Regions from separate parts of the Homo sapiens genome. Here region 1 is linked to region 2. A link means that fine-mapping ties the variant in region 2 to the expression of a gene that starts in the linked region. Tissue or cell type: whole blood. Region 2 holds a variant in brackets; the other region holds the start of a gene. All regions are shown on one strand. Distances are between the middles of the regions.

What was found. PIP is the estimated chance that this variant, and not a neighbour inherited with it, causes the effect.
Region 1: it holds the start of LSMEM1, and the variant in region 2 is fine-mapped to the expression of LSMEM1 in whole blood (TOPMed, PIP above 0.99).

The regions. Positions count from the first base shown.
Region 1 is chr7:112,475,491-112,485,416 of GRCh38, reverse strand. LSMEM1 (leucine rich single-pass membrane protein 1) reads right to left here and starts at 4,426. Exons shown (of 4, transcript NM_182597.3): 1 at 4,071-4,426; 2 at 474-605. The coding sequence starts at 600. IFRD1 (interferon related developmental regulator 1) reads right to left here. Exons shown (of 12, transcript NM_001550.4): 12 at 8,214-9,926. The coding sequence ends at 9,898.
Region 2 is chr7:112,439,925-112,449,746 of GRCh38, reverse strand. It overlaps LOC105375457 (a long non-coding RNA gene), which reads left to right and starts at 6,397. Exons shown (of 3, transcript XR_001745325.2): 1 at 6,397-7,442; 2 at 8,034-8,229. It also overlaps a transcript of IFRD1 not described here. RefSeq lists an enhancer at 1-197. The variant G/A (reference allele first, on the strand shown) is at 4,353.

The DNA of each region.
Region 1 (9,926 bases), 36 kb before region 2:
TATTTTGCTCCCCCCACCCCCTTTCTCCAACCCTTAATTGCACAATTTGTAACTTGTAAGTAGAAAATGCTCTGGATTGAGCATTCTCTCAGCAATCTGCTATAAAACAACACTCCTGTGGGAAGTGGTCCCCATCGGTAACCTAGCCATGGTCACTAGGAGAGGGATGAGCCAGCCTCCAGGAGTCCAGCTCTGCAGGCTCCACCCCTTTCCAGGGACAGAAACGCCACAGGATCTCAGAATATTTGAAGTCAAGAGTTCAAATCTCGTGTAGGATCCAAGAAAGCCCATAATCCTGTCAAGTATTCAGAAAACAAAAGCAAAATTGCCCAACAACAAATAACATTTCCAGTGCCAACCTCTTCCTAATGCCCCCTCCCCCTCCACCACACCCACACATCCAGTCAGCAGTGGCTATTTTTAGGTAGCCTAGAAGCTAGGAAGGGCTGCTGTGCCTTCCCCAGCACACATACGGAACAGATGCTGCGATCCGGCTGGACAGAGGTTTAGTTTGTTTAAGTCATTTATGGAATCCACCACATAAAGCTTTCCATCTTCCTGAATGCCACAAGAACCAGTGTCCTGGGAAGAATGAGTCATTGTCCCTGGAAGAAAACACTGATGTTAAAAACAAGAGGTTGGGCTTGTGAACTCAACTTCACAAGAACCACAGCCACCAGGAAGCCAGACAGGCCTATGAAGAACCACCCACAAATAGTATTTTCAACTAAGGCTCTAGAGAACTTGGCTTATCCAGAAAAAAATATTTCCTTCTGTGGACCACTTTGTAATCGTTCTTTTTGCTTTGCTTGCCAGGAAGCTCACAGTCAAATGTGTGGCCCAATTTTAAGAATTGTACATCCATGTATACCCTGCTTATCTGCAAACACTCTTTTCTCCTCCTCAGATGTCTCAGTTCTGCCTATATTTTCCCTGGATCTGTTTTTATTTTGTAACTAATTTTAAAATTTTTCTTTTATTACATTGTTCACATTCTGGTGAGATGCCTCAAATCCTTTGTGCAAGAAGACTAGGTAGACAAAATTAAGCTAGTCAGCAGTGGCCACAAAACATTCTGAAAAAAGAGAATATTACCATGAACCATTCTAATTGCAGGAGGCTTTAATAGAAAATTGCAATTTTTATAGCCTCCCTCCATATGGCATGTAAGTCCTTCTCTTCACACAATTCCTTTAGCCATAAGATGCTGACTGTGAGTCCCCAAGACAACAATCTTAGCAAACTTAGCTGCTATAGAGAGGAATGCTGCTAGACTTCAGGACCTCTGAGATCTCTTCCACCTGGGTTTCCCTTAGACTGAGGTCACTTATGTAATAGCTTGAGGTTTATTAAATATTGAAAGTAATATTCTCTAACGACAGCACAACTGCAAGCAACACTGAAAATCCTGAAGAGTTTAAAAGGTTTATGTGGAGATGTATCTCTAGCACAACAGAGAACTTGTGGCCATTTAATTATGTGAAAAGAAGCCTCTAGAAAGACAAATTTCAATTACTATAAAAGCTTTTCCTTTCATGGTTATCAAGTCTAATCGTGATAGAGGATGTTTGGATCTAGAAAGGGTGTTAGATGTGCTTTAGTTCCCATCCTTTCCGCAAATGAGGAAATGGAAGCTCGGCGAGGTAAATGCCCAGGATCACACATTTGCCTGGCAGCAGAGCTGGAATCGGGCCTTTTGTTCAGCATTCAATGAGTCTTGCTTTGTGCTACTTTTCTTTTCTATATCCCTTCCTAATCCTGCCTCAAGACTCAGCTCAAACATCACTTCCCCTAGGAAGAGAGAACCAACCTGTCTTTCCTTTTGCCTTTGCTGGATTCTTTACATTCTTCTATCAGAACATCTGTAGTATTTTATTGCATCTATTTGCTTACATCTTTGATTTCCCGATAGACTGAAAACTCCTTAGAGTAGGGACGAATCCTATTCTTCAAATGCCCAGTGCCAGGTTTAGAAGTTGGTGACTTATGTTAAGATGGAACACCTGAAATGTTTATTTAGGATTTAAATCTCACCATTTTCAAAAGAATTGGAGGCAGTTAATAATAAGTACATGAACAGAAATAAGATTGAGGATAAAAATCCTCATGTGATGTCTATCTGGACTCTAGTAAAGTCAATGCGATAAATATGGTGCCTGTGTGTATTTGACAACACACTGTTTACTTTCTGTTGTTGCAAAAATTTCCTTTAAAACTCATCTACAGAATGAAGAGCAATATAGAGTTGGGAGAAACCAAATTCATAAAAAAAAAAAAAAAGTATACACCTAAAGAAGATGTGGGGAAAAAAAGTATCAGACACTTACTGAGCAATTTAAACTTAGTCTAAAATATTAAAAAAACAATTTCCCAGTAATACCTAAAACTACTGGTACTTGTGAAAAATGTGCTACCAGAACCCTAGCTAAGAAAGTGAGCTCAAAAAGTCATGGACTAAAAATTTTTTTTAGGGTTAAAACTAAAAAAGTGTGTTTCACTTATCTTGAAATTTTAATTAACAAGAACAAACAATTCCCTGAGTTTTCAGATAAGATACTACCATAGCACTTTATTGACATTACTGAATTCCAAATATACTTCATAGAGCATTCCTAAGGAAATGACTTGATATGACAATTAAAAAAAATTAAAAAGCAGCAGCAAATAGAGTAAAAGGGCCTTAGAGGTCAGTCAAATCTTATCCTTTTGCAGTTAAAACCAAGGCCCCAAAATATTCACTCATGCATAGTCACAGATTTTAAAACAATTCTTTTAGATGTGTTTCATATTTTATCATCCATTTATACTAATATTTGACCAAACAGTAATATGTGACCAGGAAAAAAAGTTTTATGTGTCACATCACAGGACCACTGTTCTGCACACAGCTTCTATTTTAGGTGTGGTAACTGAAGCATGGTTCATTTTTGGATCTCTGACTTAATAGCCTTGAGCCTTAGCTTCCCCTTCAGGAATGTATCTGCTGTTGCTTCAATTTCATACTGAGGCTTAATCAATGTTTACAAAATAGAGACCTAGCTAGAAAATCATGGCCACAAAAACTGACTTTAAGAGTACAGCTAATAAAATCTCCATATTACTGGTCTTGCTATCTACTCAAAAGGTGACTCCAAAAAAAACTAAGACAACAACCTAGTGAGCCATGACGTGCTTTGAAAGAAAATGTCTTCTTTAGAGTGAAGTCACAATGTAAATATATGCTATTCCAATATTTTTTTAATGAGCTGCAACACGCAAATGGAAAAATAAAGAACTAGCAGAGAAAACTGAGTTGGGTGCTGTTCCAGGGCTCCAAGAGCCTGCAAATGACTTGCAAATGACTCATGAGGCTGCTAGTAAAGGGATACAAGATCACATGGCCTTAAAACCAGGCCCCACGGCTGTTTGACACCCAGTAGTTGCTATCTTTGGCATCTCCAAATGAGGGCATCTAGGAACAACCAGCAAGGCTGGAGAAGCCAGTGTTACTAGCAATTCTTCATCACACTAACTTGACCCTCCTTTCAACTCCAGTGTGCAAATTTGCTTATTCACCAAGATTGGCTAAAGCAGCATCCCTTTAACAGAACCCTTTCTTATACCTTGACTGGAAACATGTAAGTAATTTCATTTTCCTCTGGTTTAGATCACTGCTAACAGTTGATTTTTTGTCATTTAAGAATTCTTTGACTATTTACAAATAAATATTCCAACAAATAAAGATAATTGTCTATGAAAAATTGCCTGGTGCTTTATTTTTTAACCAGGCAGGTGCTTGGTATCAAACCACAGAAATAACTCACACCAGTATTGCTTGCCACAAAATCAGAATTGTTATAATAGGGCATAATTCAAAGCTAATAAGCAGTGTTATTGAATGAGTCATGGTAATTTGTTCTTTAATTTCATTTCCCAGTCAATGCCTCTTCACATTCAGGAAGTAATTTTTAAAATCAAGTCTAAATCATTTCTATCAAAAATGAAAAACACAGAGCACATGCAACAAAAACTTCCCAGACTCGAGAATCATAATTCAGTCTCAGTAGAGTAATAGCATGCAAATTACTTACAAAAATGTGAGCTTTGACTGCTAGGTTACCAGAAAAACAAAACAAAACAAAACAAACAAACAAAAACTAATTGTTCAGAAGCAACTACAACAAAACTTTTCTACAAATTCTGTAGTTCTCTCTTTGCCTTTCTTCAGCATACGGGTGCTCCTATGAGACCCATAAGCCCCAGGATGAAACTGTTGGTCTATATTGTGTCAATTTAGCCAAGCAGTGTAAGATTCCAAATCCTGACTTTTTTCATAATGTCTAAGGTTTTTAGTAAATATATTACTAAAACTATGCTTTAAAAAGAAAACAACAAAAAAACACCATGCCCTGATTTAGTTGGTAACTGATGAGGTTTTTATTGGACTGAAGTTACCGTCCTTATCTGGCTGAAGCAACTGTTAGCTGACACCACCTTTCCAGCACTCCTGCCATGGTATGCTTCCATATATAAATATCCTGTAGCAGGCGGAAGCTGCCACTATGATGACTGACTTGCAAACACTCCAGACAAACCAGAGAACTGCAATAAACACGGACAGAATATGATTATGACATCATAACAAGGATGATGGCAGGTCAGACGCCTAGTGCTTCCAGTAGCTACAAAAAGCGATTGTGAGTGGGCGATTTCATGGATACAGACCCACCACAGGTGAAGGAAGCACTCCATCTCATCGGCCGCCTTTCCTTTACAAAGGCTTTGTTCTGTGAGTGTCTGCACATCCTCCTTTCTCAGGAATAACAGCCTTCCATATATGTGGTTCCCTCACATACATGCCAAGGAGCTTCTGCCCTCTGCTGTACATAAAAGATGCTACAGTGATGAGGAGACCAACTATCTCAGCAGGATACTAACAGTGAGGTTGTGAACAACTGTGCAATCCTTTATCATCCTCACTTCCATTGCCATAGCTTGATGGACATTATTCATCTTTGAAACATTTTTCATGTCAGTGAGAAAATAGGTGTTCCACAAAATTTTCTTTGAGACAGAGTCTTGCTGTGTTGCCCAGGCTGGAGCGCAGTGGCATGATCCCAGCCTACTGAGACCTTCCTGCTTCCAGATTCTCCTGCCTCAGCCTCCCAAGTAGCTGGGATTACAGGTATGTGCCACCATAGCTGGCTAATTTCTTTATTTTTAGTAGAGATGGGGTTTCACCATGTTGGTCAGGCTAGTCTTGAACTCCTGACCTCAAGTGATCCACCCACCTCGGCCTCCCAAAGTGCTGGGATTACAAACTTGAGCCACCATGCCCGGCCCAAAATTTTCTTTACACCTATATCCCATACGGACCTCACTCTGCTTTGGGGGAAGAGGAATGTCATTTTTTTTTTCCCTTCACACTACCTAGTCTAAGAGGGAATGTCATTTTTTCAAGCCTCATCTGTACCCAAAGACTAATTCTTGGAGGAAGACAATATAACTAGTAACTTTTCTCAGAAACATACGTTAAAAAGCTATGTCAAATTTCTCTGAATAATGAAAATGTTCATGTTAGCTATTATGCTGTTTTTAAGAAATCTCCCAACTACCTGATCTGCCTTGAGCCATGTATCCTTTGAAGATATAATAGAAGTAACTGCCTCATTTTGGGGCGTTTACTACTTTTCCTCTCCTGTAACTTCTAACTTTGTGGAATATTAACTTCCCCTGAAGGAGGAAGGAAATGGAGACTAAGGAATTTAATTGTTGAGGGATACACTGATTATAAGTGGCAGAGATGAGATGTAAACCCATACCTCGCATTCAAGTCTGAATTGAACTATACACCAGTGAGGGGGATAAGACTGCCTTTAGACCAGTTAGACTTCTGGAAAGCCACTTAAGAACAAAGCAAGACAACCTACTTCATTTTAACTATAACATACCTGCAAGACCACCTTTAAGAAGAGTTTTGGGGCCGAGTGCGGTGGCTCATGCCTGTATTCCCAGCACTTTGGGAGGCCGAGACAGGCAGATTAACTGAGGTCGGAAGTTCGAGACCAGCCTGACCAACAAGGAGAAACCCCATCTCTACTAAAAATACAAAATTAGCCGGGTGTGGTGGCACATGCATGTAATCCCAGCAACTCAGGAGGCTGAGGCAGATTATACCATTGGACTCCAGCCTGGGCAACAAAAACGAAACTTCATCTCAAAAGAAAAAAAAAGAGTTTTGGGTCACAAAAAGAGATATTCTCACATGAAGTGTCTAATCTAGGGACATTCTCAAGTATTTGCTTTTTCTTTCATATATTACATCTCAGGGTATCTAAATTCACTCCCAGGAAATTTAGTACCCATCAAAGAGGAGTCACAGACAATGAATACTTCAAAATGCTTGAGCCTCAAAATAATGAAAGCGGGCAAAATTAATCAAGAATCAAGCAATGAACAACTAGTCTATAACACAACATTTTTCTACTTTCAAGAAAACACAAGCATTCTTACACATTGAACACCCAGCCACCCTTGTCTAGCAGTTACCACAAGTTTCATGAATAAAGTCACCTGCATATAAATTCAACATGCAGATTAACACTCTATACCTTCTTCCTCCCAAAAGCCCAGTAAAAAAGCAGGAGTACAAATTACAAAACCAGAAAAATTAAAATAGGAAGAAACAATACTGAAGAGCTCAATAAATGTATTGAACATGGTAAGAAGAGTGGTATCTGCCTTAGCAGGGCTATCACAGATGAGTGACAGTAGGACTGATCCTGCAGAATTCAGGCAGGCCTAGGATTTAGAGGCAAGAGTGTGGCATGGAGCTACACAGAGGCAAGTAATTTAATGCTAGCCAAAAACAAAATGCAATACAAATTGGAAAATTGTCTTAGAGAAATATCCCAGACAGAAAAAAAAAAAATAAATAAGGCCCAAGATTCAATTTGGGAGCTCCACTATGTCATAGAGTTCCAGAACAAAGAAAATGAGGAGGAAGAGAAGAGATGAAGAACTTAATATTTTCCAGGTTGCCAATCCCACCAAAGCACAGTATCATGCAATTTTAGAACACTAGAAACAGAGATGCTGAGAAAACAAAGAAATAAAAATAAAAACTGCATCAGATATCTCAAGATTTTGCAAATTAGAATAGAGCAATGCCTTCAAAATTCTGAATTTGAATACACTTGTCAAAATTTTCAAAAATTCCAAATTTGATTTTCCACCTAGAATTTCCATGCAAACTATCTTTCAGAAATATGAAGTCACTAAATAACTGACTGATCTCTCACGCACTCATTCCCAAGAAACTACTGAAAGAAGTGCTCCATGTTAACAAAGAAGTAAATTAAGACATGGGATCCAGAAAATGAGGGATACAATTCAAGAGAAAGAAAAACAAATCCTCACGATAGTGCTGTCTCAGGAAAACTGCTATACAATTGGATGAGAGAAACTAGTCTAGATTGAAACAAGTACAGAATCAAGAAAAGTTGTGACAAATTTATTTGGGACTGTTTGGGAAGAATCAATGATGTGCATAAAAAGCCAAAAAAAAGAGCATTAACTCCAAGACAAAACGTTGTATGAGAATGAAAATGTAAGCACATTAAATTAATTCACGAGTGAACATACAAGTATGATCACAGCTATGCAAACAGGTACATGATCTAACCAAAATAATATTAGAAGGATGTGAAACAATAAAAGAAATTTTCACCTGTCTTAATAGTAAGTTGACAAACACCTAAAAAATAAATGGCTGTATAATCATATTATTTAGAAACCTAAAACCAAAAACTGAAGGCTGAAAGAACCGAGCTAGAAAAAACTGAAGGCTGAATGTCTCTTGGGATGGGACTGAGGAATAGGAAAGGATGGAGCAAGGGGCTTTCCTTATTAGCCTTGAAGTACCATTAAACTATGTTCAGGCTGGGCACGGTGGCTCATGCCTGTAATCCCAACACTTTGGGAGACCAAGGCGGGCAGATCACTTGAGGTCAGGAGTTCAAGACCAGCCTGGCCAACATGGTGAAACCCCATCACAACTAAAAATATAAATTAGCCAGGTGTGGTGGAACACACCTGTAATCCCAGCAACTCAGGAGGCTGAGGCAGGAGAATCGTTTGGACCCTGAAGGCAGAGGTTACAGTGAGCCAAGATTGCGCTACTGCACCCCAGCCTGCGCAACAGAGGGAGACTGTCTCAAAAACAAACAAAAACCTATGTTCATACAACACTTTAATAAAAATTCATTATTTATTTATAATTACATGTACATACATATATGCATTTGAATATCTAGAAGAAACTACCATTTGCAATCTCTTTTCCATGGTTCTAACCTACTTGGAACATAACCAAGTGACAACATACAAACAAGTTCTAGATTCTAAACCTGTTTTCCACTGCACTGTAACTGGGGGATGGGACTCAGCAACAGTGACTCCATAAGCCAGCAAATGATTTTCACCTAGAGGGAGCACCAGACTTCCAAGAGTTGTTGGGATGTGGGAGGGGAACACTAGTTTGGAAAAAAGACCTTAAATGATTTTGATACTTCTCCCTACAGTATATATGCTTCCCTACCCCTCACGGCGACCTACAGCAAGAGTATCAAAGAAACAAGTCTACGGATTTGAAATGGCATGTTGCTTGCACTATATATTTTAATCTAAAGTTTATTAAATGTTAACGTGTTGTCAAAATGCTTTTCATAAAATGAAAGAAATATACCTCATGGGCAAACAAGCAGCAATATTCTTTTTTGTTTTGCTTTTGAGACAAGGTCTCACTCGTCACCCAGGCTGGAGTGGCACAATCACGGCTCACTGCAGCTTTGACCTCCTGGGCTCAAGTTACCCTCTTGCCTCAGCACCCAAGTAGATAAAGAGTAGAAGCACACACCACCACACTCATTTTTTAAATTTCTGGTAGAGACAGGGTCTCGCTATGTTGCCCAGGCTGGTCTCAAACTGGGCTCATGCCATCCTCCCGCCTCAGCCTCCCCAGAGTGCTGATTATAGGCATGAGCCACACTGCATGTTGCCAAGCAGAAATATTCTTGAAAGTCAGAAACCTTAATCCCAATTATGTATTGCTACATTCTTTTCATCTACTTTAATGTTTGTAAATATACACATAAAGCTTTGTCTCCCTGCCCACCTGGCCTAGTCATTTTGGACTCTGTACCTCAAAGCCATAAATAATATTTCTTCTATTAGAAGAGAAGCACTTTCAGTGTGGAAAAAAATCTTTATTTCAAAGTAAAATGCACAAAGTCTCATACAGCAGATAAAATCAGTGTTACTGCTCTCAGATGTTAAGGTTAGCAACCTTTCTGGCATATGCTAATTCATCATGAACTCCCAATAGCTGAACTGAATGGCTTTTAAGTACAGCTATAAGGTCTCATGGTATAATTCCTTTTGTTGATGCCAGTGACAGGATTTTAAAAGCTACATTCCATTAAAAATTAAAAATACAGCAGCTTTTCCAGGGGAACTAGATCCCAAAATTGTACCCAGAACTCTTGTCTAAGATATTAAGTTAAATATCTTGCATGTATATATCATTATAGTAAATCAGTATTCTTGACAACCACAGTGTAAGAAATTAAACTTTGGCTAATTGTTTTCCCCATCATGAAATCAGTCTTTTGCTGTCTTCATAAATAAATTATGACCAAACATTACAAATACTTTATACATGTTTACTGATTTACAGAGAATATTTAATAATCAGAACTCACCAGTTTCAATAGTATTGTACATTAAATTATAAGCAATATAACCACTGCTACAAAAGTTATCTAAGTTAATCCAGGATAAAAACTGTGTCTAGAGTTTAAATACATTGAAATAGAAAAAAAAATAGAAATTAGAAAATAGTCTTCAAGTTCTGAAAATCTAGAAGAATTCTCCAACATCTGCTCTCT
Region 2 (9,822 bases):
AGCGTTGTGGGTTTCTATACAAGAATGTGTCCCTTGACAATACTACCTGCCAGTTCTGAGAATTTCACAGCTGGTAAAACAAACACAAGTTATACAGATCAATAATCGCAGTGCTGCCTTTTTTCTCAAGGCACTCCTAGATCTCTGTCTTCCTTGTTAGGACATTTGTCTAGTATTTAGAGCCTGTTATTAGGTTCATATACTATGCTTATGACAGATCAAAGTCCCTGACTCACCTCAATGTAGGTGAGTCATCCGCCACTCCACCTCTCAGCTGAGCTCTATTCTATTTTCAATTGCCTGTAGCAAATTTCCACCAGAATGTTCCACTTGTGCCTCAACCCAACATCTCTGAAACGAATACTATATTTCCTTCTTCCTGTCTTCCCTTTGTTCACTGTACTATTTATTATCCTCCCATATGTTAAATTCCAAAACTCAAATTCATAGTCTTTTTTCCCTTTGATGCACCACCCCCTCCCCACCCGCAAAGCAATTAGTTTTAAAATAGCACTCTTAAATTCCTGTCCTATTCTGTGATCACATGTGACCTCAGTTCATGCCTGGGCATTTTAAGCGATCTCCCAGTCTTTTCATCCATGTTTCATGCACAGTAATGCTGCCAGATTTATTTGTGTGTTCCCTATTTTACTAATCCACCTGCTTTAATAGTTGCTCAAAAACATTCCATGGCTCCCATGACTAACTTTAAATGCCAACCCTTTTAGCCTGGCCCTGACTCCCTTTCCAGCCTCATCTTTCACTGCTTCCTCATACAGTTCTTGTTCTTCAGCCAAACAGGACTGCTTTTCATTTCCAATACACGGCTCTCTTCTCCTACCTCCATTTCCTCATTCATATTCTTTCCTGTTCTTGTAATGCCTTTCCTCCCATCTTCACCTTAAGAAATTTTATCCACCGTTCAAGATGTAGCTCATGCTGCCACCTTCCTGAAGCCTCCAGCCAGAAGTTTCTTCCTCCTCACAACTCTTTGACACTCATCCTAATAATGCCCTAATGGCACTTATTACCTCCCCACACGGCCTACTCAAAGATGCTATTTAATGGGCAACATTTCAGGGTTGCTTTTACTTTGTTTAATCCTGAAGCAGCCAGTAAACTGCACAGAGCACAGAAACCAAATACGGAGGCAGGTTGTGGGGGAGGAAGCAGCTCACACTGACTCCTTGTATCTAGAGGCACACTGCAACTCAGTGACAGGGCCTATACAGAATGAGATGTCTCACAGAATTGTAGACTCAATAACTTTTATAACCCTAGGCTCTTCACCATCCAGAAACAATTTATACTATACATAAGGCAACAGTTTTGCCACTCTGGAGTCACATCACCTAGGCCTAACATCCAGGTTCCAGCCCTGGAAACGTGTGCTTTGCATTTGGGGCAGGGGCTTTTTTTCCAAATCCCTTCACATCCACTTAGTCGTTCTGCGGCAGGCCTGGCCATGGCCCACCACATCATATACGTACTTGTTTTACATTTATTTGTGAATACATCTGTCATCTCATGAAATTATCAGCTTCCCAAGAACAAAAATCTTTTCCTCTTTTTAATTTCTTTTCTTTTTTTCTTACTTTTCTTTCTTTTTTTTTTTTTTTTAAATCTACAGGCCCAGGAACTTGAAAAAATCTTGCTGTATCCCTCATGGCACAAAAGGAAGTGTTACATTTGAAATTGAAATTATAGTCAGTATATATATAGTTAAATGAACATTTAAGAAATAATTGTTGACTAGATTTTTCTGGATCAAGGAAAGGGAGAAACTTATGTATCACTACATACATACATTCTGGATCAAGGAAAGGGAGAAACTACTTATCACTACAAACATGAAGTACAGCCTTCAGTATAATGAATTCTGAGAGATACTGTACTTTTGATAAAATTACCTTACTATAGTTTTATGCCTGCAGTTTAGCTCCAGACCAGTGCAAACATCACAAAGATGTAGCCCACCTCCTCATGGGACAGTGGTCTTCAGCTCCACATACTATTTTGCAATATGTTTAAAGAAATTAGAAGACTCCAAACATCAAGTCACTAAATGATTACAAATACCAGAAAGGAAGGGGAAGCACGAAAGGGAACAGGAAAAAGGGCTTTCTCCAGACTTTGCCTTTTTCTTCAGGAAAGACCACACTCCCTAGAAACTTCCACCTACATGTTGACCAGAACTGTGTCACAGGATGATCCCTAGCTGCAAGGAAGTTTAGAACACAAGTATTTTCGGTTGGGCTCATTCGCAAACAAAATTGAGGTTCTGTTGTTAAGAATGAAGGGGAAACCATGGATATAAGGTAGACAAATAGCAATGTCTGCCTCATATATCAGGAGGCAAAATACTCTCATGCTCTAATAAATAAATATCACATATTTGTTACCAACATGACATTATGTGCTGCCTCAACATTTAAGTCATTGTAAAATATATTCTTCTTTTACAAAACAACTTAGTTTAACATTCCATGGAACAGAAATCACCATCAGGGTAAGTATACTCAAATGTTGCAAAAATAAATCTTACATTAATCAGAATTTAGGGGCACGCCTGAGAAGAGTTCTAAGTTCTCATTGATGACTTTGATTCAAGAACAAGTAATAAAGATAAGATTCAGTATTCATACCTTCCTTGAAGGCATAAACATGAAAGGTTTTCTTTGAATGACTTTAGTCATGGCCTCCTTGGGATTCTCTGCATAGCACTGAGCAGAAATAATACCTCCCAGATCCTCCATGTAGGGCTTGTCGGAATCTGTTTCTTGCCTGTATCTCCCAAATCACTTCTCTCATCACCTAACACAGTCCCTTTCCTAATGCCATATCAAACTCTTAGCAGGTCTCTGAGCTCACCACTCTCAAGCTTCCAGGCCTTACCTAGGTTTGGCACATACCTCTCTCTCCATATTGCATCTCCTGCCCCTCTTTTCATCCACTGCATTTCAGCCACACTGGTCTTTGCCAACTTAAAAACACAAAGTTCATTCCCCACTTAAGACTTGCAACAGCTCCTCCCTCTGCCTGATATGATCAACCCGAGCTTCCCACACTTGCCATTCAGATCTGAGCTTAAATGACACCTACCTGAAGAGGCCTTCCTACTCTCCCACTCTTCCACTCTCCATTCTAAGGTCGCATCCTCACCCCACCTACCACCAGCACCTCCACCCTGCTTATATTCTCCCAAAGTACATCGCACTACTTAATATTTTTTGGCCCAATTATTTTTTGTCTCTTCTACTAGAATGTTAGAATTACAAGAAAGAGATCCTGTCTGTTTTATTCACTATTGTATCTTCAGTACTGGAACAGTACGTGGCACTTAGATATTCAATTATTTTTTACTGAATGTTTACACCACTCCTGAGAAGAATAAGCGTAAGCGAAAGAAGGTGAAGCTGGCTGTCCTGAAATACTGTAAGGTGGATGAGAATGGCAAAATAAGTCGCCTTCATCTAGAGTGCTCTTCAGATGAATGTGGTACTGGAGCGTTTATGGCCAGCCACTTTGACAGACATTATTGTGACAAATGTCTCATTGCTTCAGCAAACCAGAAGACAATTAATTGTGTATGAGTTAATAAAAGACATGAACTAACAAAACACATTTACTGAATGAATAAATGTATTAATAATTAAATGTCACTCCTCTGCCTAGAACATCCTTCCCCACGATCTCCCCATCATCCTTTAAGTTACTGATCCTCGGTCACTAATCCTGGGCCCCCCAAATTGTCTGATTTAAATGTCTTTCTTTTTTGTTCTTGCAGTGCCTTCTTTAGACTAGCATTAATTATATGTATTGTAGGGTTTTTTTACTTCTTTTTTTTTAATATGTATTGTAGTTCTTGATTACTTGTCTGTTTTCCCCTCAGACATGAGATACAAGCTACATGCTACTTGTGGGCAAAGCCCAGTTTTGTCACTTCTGAAACACACATGTAGCACCTTTGTGCAAATTAGAAACAGAACACCAAGTCTGATGAGTGTTTATGGGCTGGAATCCAGTCACCAATCTCTCTTCAGCAGGGAACAACCTATACATCTGTACATAGTGGCCCAGTAGACAATAACTGTGTTTTTAATTGAATGAGGGAGTCAATTTCCTCTGTATTTTAGCAGTTTTCTTAAAAGCAAAGGAACTAATGTGGGGAAAAGGATGAGGCTAACATTTATTGCAAGTCCACACTGCCACTGTTCTAGACTGTTTTCACACCTCTCATGTAATTCTTACAACAACCCTACGCAGAAAAGATTAGTTTTACCATTTTGTGGATGAAGAAATGAGCTTAGAGAGGTTTTGCAACTTCCCCAAGGTCGTACCATTGGTAAACA[G/A]TGCGTCTGTTGTGATGAAAGCCTAGGCCGGCCGGGCGGGGTAACTCACACCTGTAATCCTAGCACTCTGGGAGGCCAAGGTGGGCGGATCACAAGGTCAGGAGATCGAGACCATCCTGGCTAACACGGTGAAACCCCGTCTCTACTAAAAATATAAAAAATTAGCCGGGCGTGGTGGCGGGCGCCTGTAGTCCCAGCTACTCGGGAGGCTGAGGCAGGAGAATGGCATGAACTCGGGAAGCGGAGCTTGCAGTGAGCCGAGATTGCGCCACTGCACTCCAGCCTGGGTGACAGAGCGAGACCCTGTTTCAAAAAAAAAAAAAAAAAAAAAAGAAAGCCTAGGCCTATCTGATTCCAAGTTTGCCTCTGGCTGGCTTTGGTCATATGGGAACCTGAGTGCTTGTTCCTAGGAGTCATGGGTTTTCTTGTTTGCTTTTTTATAATTTCAACTTTTAGATTCAGGGTATAATGTACAGGTTTGTTACATGGTTATATTGCATGATGCTGAGGTTTGGGATATGAATGATCCCGTCACCTAGGTAGTGAGCATAGCACCCAGTAGTTTTTCAACTCTTTCCCCCTCCATCCCTCCCGCCTCTAGTAGTCCCCAGTGTCACTGTTGCTTTTTTATGTCCAGAGTCATGGGTTTTATTTGCAATGCTGCGAGAAAAGGCCCCTTGAAGTTAAATTTTGCCTTGTTCCCCTTTTTTTTAGAGTCTCTTCACCCCTAGTATCAGTATACAGGGGACATTCAGTTGTTGACTGCCTGATGAATGTTTGCCAGTGTAAGTTTTTTCTGATATTTCTAAAGCTTTAGCAGAACTTTATTATTAAATAGTAATGTTATTCCATCAAATAATTTTTTACATGGATTATCACTTGTTGTGTTTTAGATTGCATTGTTTTCTTAATATGTTTGCAATTTTTGTTTTATTGCCAAGAATGGTGATAATACAGCATGCTAAATTTGAGATCCCTGTTTGTTAAGAAATGATTCGGCGGGCAAATTTAGTTAGAACTCTTTAAGCCTTAAGATATATTTTGTTTGCTTTTTTCTTTTTGTTGTGTAGAAGATACTTCTTTGTGGTTTTCAGTTTTGAAATTACATACACTTTCTGTAATGAAATTTCTGACAAAAGACAGTCAGTGTTTAATTGTCTTCTAAAATGGGAATGTTGCTTATCTCACAAAGCTGCAGTATTATCAATAATAAAATATGAGACTGTGTTAACAGGGTACTGTGAGCCATAAGTACCATAATACACACAGCCAAACTAGGATAGTTATGACGCATTATGTTGGAAGAACTTTTTATGGCAACAGCGTAAGTAGGAATTATCTTTTTGTTGAACATAAAGAATATCAGTGGACTTTTCCATTTGGATATCCTGACTCTTCATACCAAACATAACCAAAATCAACTTGTTCTTTACCAACCTCTCTACATTCTACAACTAGTTTTGTTTTTTTGTTTTTGTTTTTGTTTTTTTGGTGGGGGATGGTGTTTGTTTTTTGGGTTTTTTTTTTTTTTTGAAACAGAGTTTCACTCTTGTCACCCAGGCTAGAGTGCCATGGTGCGATCTCGGTTCACTGCAACCTCCACCTCCCGGGTTCAAGCAATTCTCCTGCCAAAGCCTCCCGAGGGATTACAGGCGTTCACCACCATGCCTGGCTAATTTATGTATTTTTAGTAAAGACGGGGTTCATCATGTTGGCCAGGCTGGTCTCGAACTCCTGACAAGTGGTCCACACACCTCGACCTCCCAAAGTGCTGGGATTACAGGCATGAGCCACCACACTCGGCCGTTTTTGGGGGGCTTTTTTTGAGATGGGTCTCCCTCTGTCATCCAGGCTGGAGTACAGTGGTGCCATCACAGCTCACTGCAGCCTTGACCTCCTGGGCTCAAGCAATCCTCCCGTCTCAGCCTCCTGAGTAGCTGGGATACAGACGCATGTATCCCAGCTAATTTACTTATTTATGTTTGTAGAAATGAGGTCTTGCTGTGTTGCCTAGGCTGGTCTCAAACTCCTGGGCTCAAGCAGTCCTCCCAAAGTGCTGGGATTACAGGCATGAACCACCACACCCAGTCTACAACCAGTTCTTGTTCCCAGCTTTCTCCGTGTGGTAGTACTAATCTTACGGCCAACCACCAGAGAATCTTAAATAGTTGAAAATTTCTTAAGGGGTAACCTACTTCAGACTCCTGCCTCACCTGGGAAACGACTGACAACATGATTAAGATCCAAGGCTCTAACTCAGTATTCCAGGGTTCAAATCCTGGCCATACTATTTGCAATGGATTCTTGAGCAAGTAACTTCACTCTTCCATGCCTTGGTTTCAATGTGATTAATGATAGAACCTATTTCATGTGGTTGGAATGAGGAATACATGAAACAATACAAGTAAAGTACTTAGCTCAGTACTCAGCACATAGTAAACAATGTTAGCCATTAATATTAGTCAACAGATATTTATCATTTTTTCTTAAACTCTGACAGTGCTAGAACTCACACAACTCTTCAGGGAAGCTCATTCCAACAGTGGATATTTGTCATATTTTGAAAAGTCTCAATTCCTTCAACAAATATTCCTCAGGTGTCCACTATATACCAAGCATGTTCTAGAGCATGAGAACAAAGAGATGACTGAAAACAGTGTTTGTCCTCATAAAGTCCCTAGTCCAGCAACAGAACTCAGTACCAGGTGGCCCGTGGCTGTCCGTCCCTCTCAGCCCATTTGGAGGTGACTCTTGCTTCTCTCTTGATGGATCAGCTTTCACTGCCCACCCCCAGGGACATGACCAAAGAGGTTCCTCCTCTCTACCCCTAAGCGGTGAGTCCATAGGCTCCCTGGAGAGTTCAGTCATCTCTTCTGGAGCAAGTCACCTAGCAGCAGTGAACCTCCATTTCTTTATCTCAAAAATGGGAGTCAATAATCCCTGCCTTATTGATGTCACTGGATTGTCATAAAAATGACATCATTATGTAAAGGTCTTTGTAACCTGCCACGTACTCTATAATGATGAGATACTCCTTATATTAAACCAAAGAAAGAAATGACTCTGCTAAAGATGGAATTTTAGACATCAGTAAGCAAGGGAAGATCTTTTGGCTGGGAGCTGATAAAGTGGTTAACAGGAGAAATTTACTAAGCCCCAGATCAGACTTATAAGGACAAGACTAGACTGACTCAACCAGGCCTCCAGCATTGCTCCTAAAAATCTTATTGGAGGCCATATACTGTGCTGGAGGGTCACCGAGTTTTAGATCCAGACAGACAGAACTAGAGTCAAAATGCCTTATCAACCACTTACTAGTTTGGTGACTGTGTGCAAGTTCCTTAATCTAAGCTATATGAATGAGGAATGTATGAAACAGTACATGTTAGCCATTAATATTAGTAAGCAGATATTTATCCATTTTTTTCTTAAATTCTGCGAGTGCTAGGAATCACACAACTCTTCAGGGCCGCTAGTTTCAACACTGGATAGTCATCATTTTTGGAAAAGTCTCAGTTCCTTCAACAAACATTCCTCAGGTGTCCACTATATACTAAGCATGTTCTAGAGCATGAGACAAAGGGATGCCTGAAAATAGAGTATTTGGCCTCATAAAGTTCCTAGTCTAGCACGAGAGCTCAGCATTATTTGTAAATCAGATTCTCTCTCCTTGGAATTCAGAATTAGAACTGAGAGACACTCAAAGATTCTGGACTGTCTTCTGAGCAGAGAATAAAAAGTAGCTATCATCTGCCCACCACAGACATGAAAAAACAAGAAAGACAGTTTGCAGAGAGGAGAGAATGAAACAGGACTGTAGAGAGAAGCAGAGACAAGAAATGGATCTTCCCATCTCGTCATGAGCTTCCACTTCCAGGTAGGCAGAACTACCAGAGACTCAATTGAATTCCTGCCTTAGGCTTCCAGGGAACATCCTGAACTTTTTTTTTTTTTCTGAGATGGTGTCTTGCCTCTCACCCAGACTGGAGTGTAGTGGTGCGATCACAGCTCACTGAGGTCAGGTAACCCTCCCACCACAGCCTCCAAAGCCGCTGGGACTACAGGTGTGCACCACCATGCTCGGCTAATTTTTGTTTTTGTTTTTGTTTTTGTTTTTTTTAAGACAGGATCTCACTCTATTGCCCAGGCTGGAGTGCAGTGGCGTGGTGTTGGCTCACTGCAACCTCCGTCTCCCAGGTTCAAGCAGTTCTTCTGCCTCAGCCTCCCAAGTAGCTGGGATTACAGGCGCACACCACGAACGCCCAGCTAATTTTTGTGTTTTTCGTAAAGACAGGGTTTCACCATGTTGGCCAGGACGGTCTCAAATCTCTTGACCTCATGATCCACCCTCCTCAGCCTCCCACCAAAGTGTTGGGATTACAGGTGTGAGCCACCCTGCCTAGCCTAATTTTTGTATTTTTTGTAGAGACGGGGTTTTGCCATGTTTCCAAGGCTGGTCTGGAACTCCTGGACTCACACAGTCCGCCCACCTTGGCGTCCCAAAGTACTGGGATTACAGGGGTGAGCCATTGCACCCAGCCTGAACTTTTAAAATAAATTGTTTCTTATGCTCAAGTTAGGTCCAGTCAGTTTTTATTTCTTGCAAACTAGGATAGTTTACAGTTTCTCCTTAGCACTCCTCTGTTTTTTTGATTAGTGTCTCTTGGAGTTCCAGAAAACTGTCCAGGCATTTGCAAGTGGGACTTTAAAAGCCTATCTTTTACACTCAGATGAAAGGCAGTAGGAAGTAGGAACAGATTCTCTAACACTTTGGAGGCATGTTAGCACCTTTCTAAATTATGGAGAATGAGTGAACTGCCAAATTTCATTCATCATTACTGATATTTATTGTGAACCAATCCAGCCAAAAGAATTCTGAACAGACACTTTAAAAACCTATGCCAAACTGAATTGACCGTACCAGGCTTATCACATTTAAATATTTATTTAAAATAGTCTTTAAATTATAATTATGTTAATTGTTTTATTAAAATCAAGAGAGAAAACTAACCATTTATCAAACTGCTGAGACTGCTAAAAGATTTATCAGCCTTATATAAATAAGACACACTTAGTAAATATTTTCATTCCATTCAAGAAAGGCTTTTGTGACCGAGTGCCGTGGCTCACACCTGTAATCCCAGCATTTTGGGAGGCCAAGGCAGACAGATCACTTGAGGTCAGGAGTTCGAGACTAGCCTAGCCAACATTGGGAAACCCCATCTCTACTAAAAATACAAAATTAGCTTGGCATGGTGGCGAACGCCTGTAGTCCCAGCTACTCTGGAGGCTGAGGCAGGAGAATTTCTTGAACCCAGGAGGCAGAGGTTGCAGTGAGCCGAGATTGCACCACTGCACTCCAGCCTAGGTGACAGAGCAAGACTGCATCTCAAAAAAAAAAAAATGGCTTTTGAAATTAATTTGTTGCAGACATCATTGATTTCCTGCCGCAGATCCATCTTACTCTCTT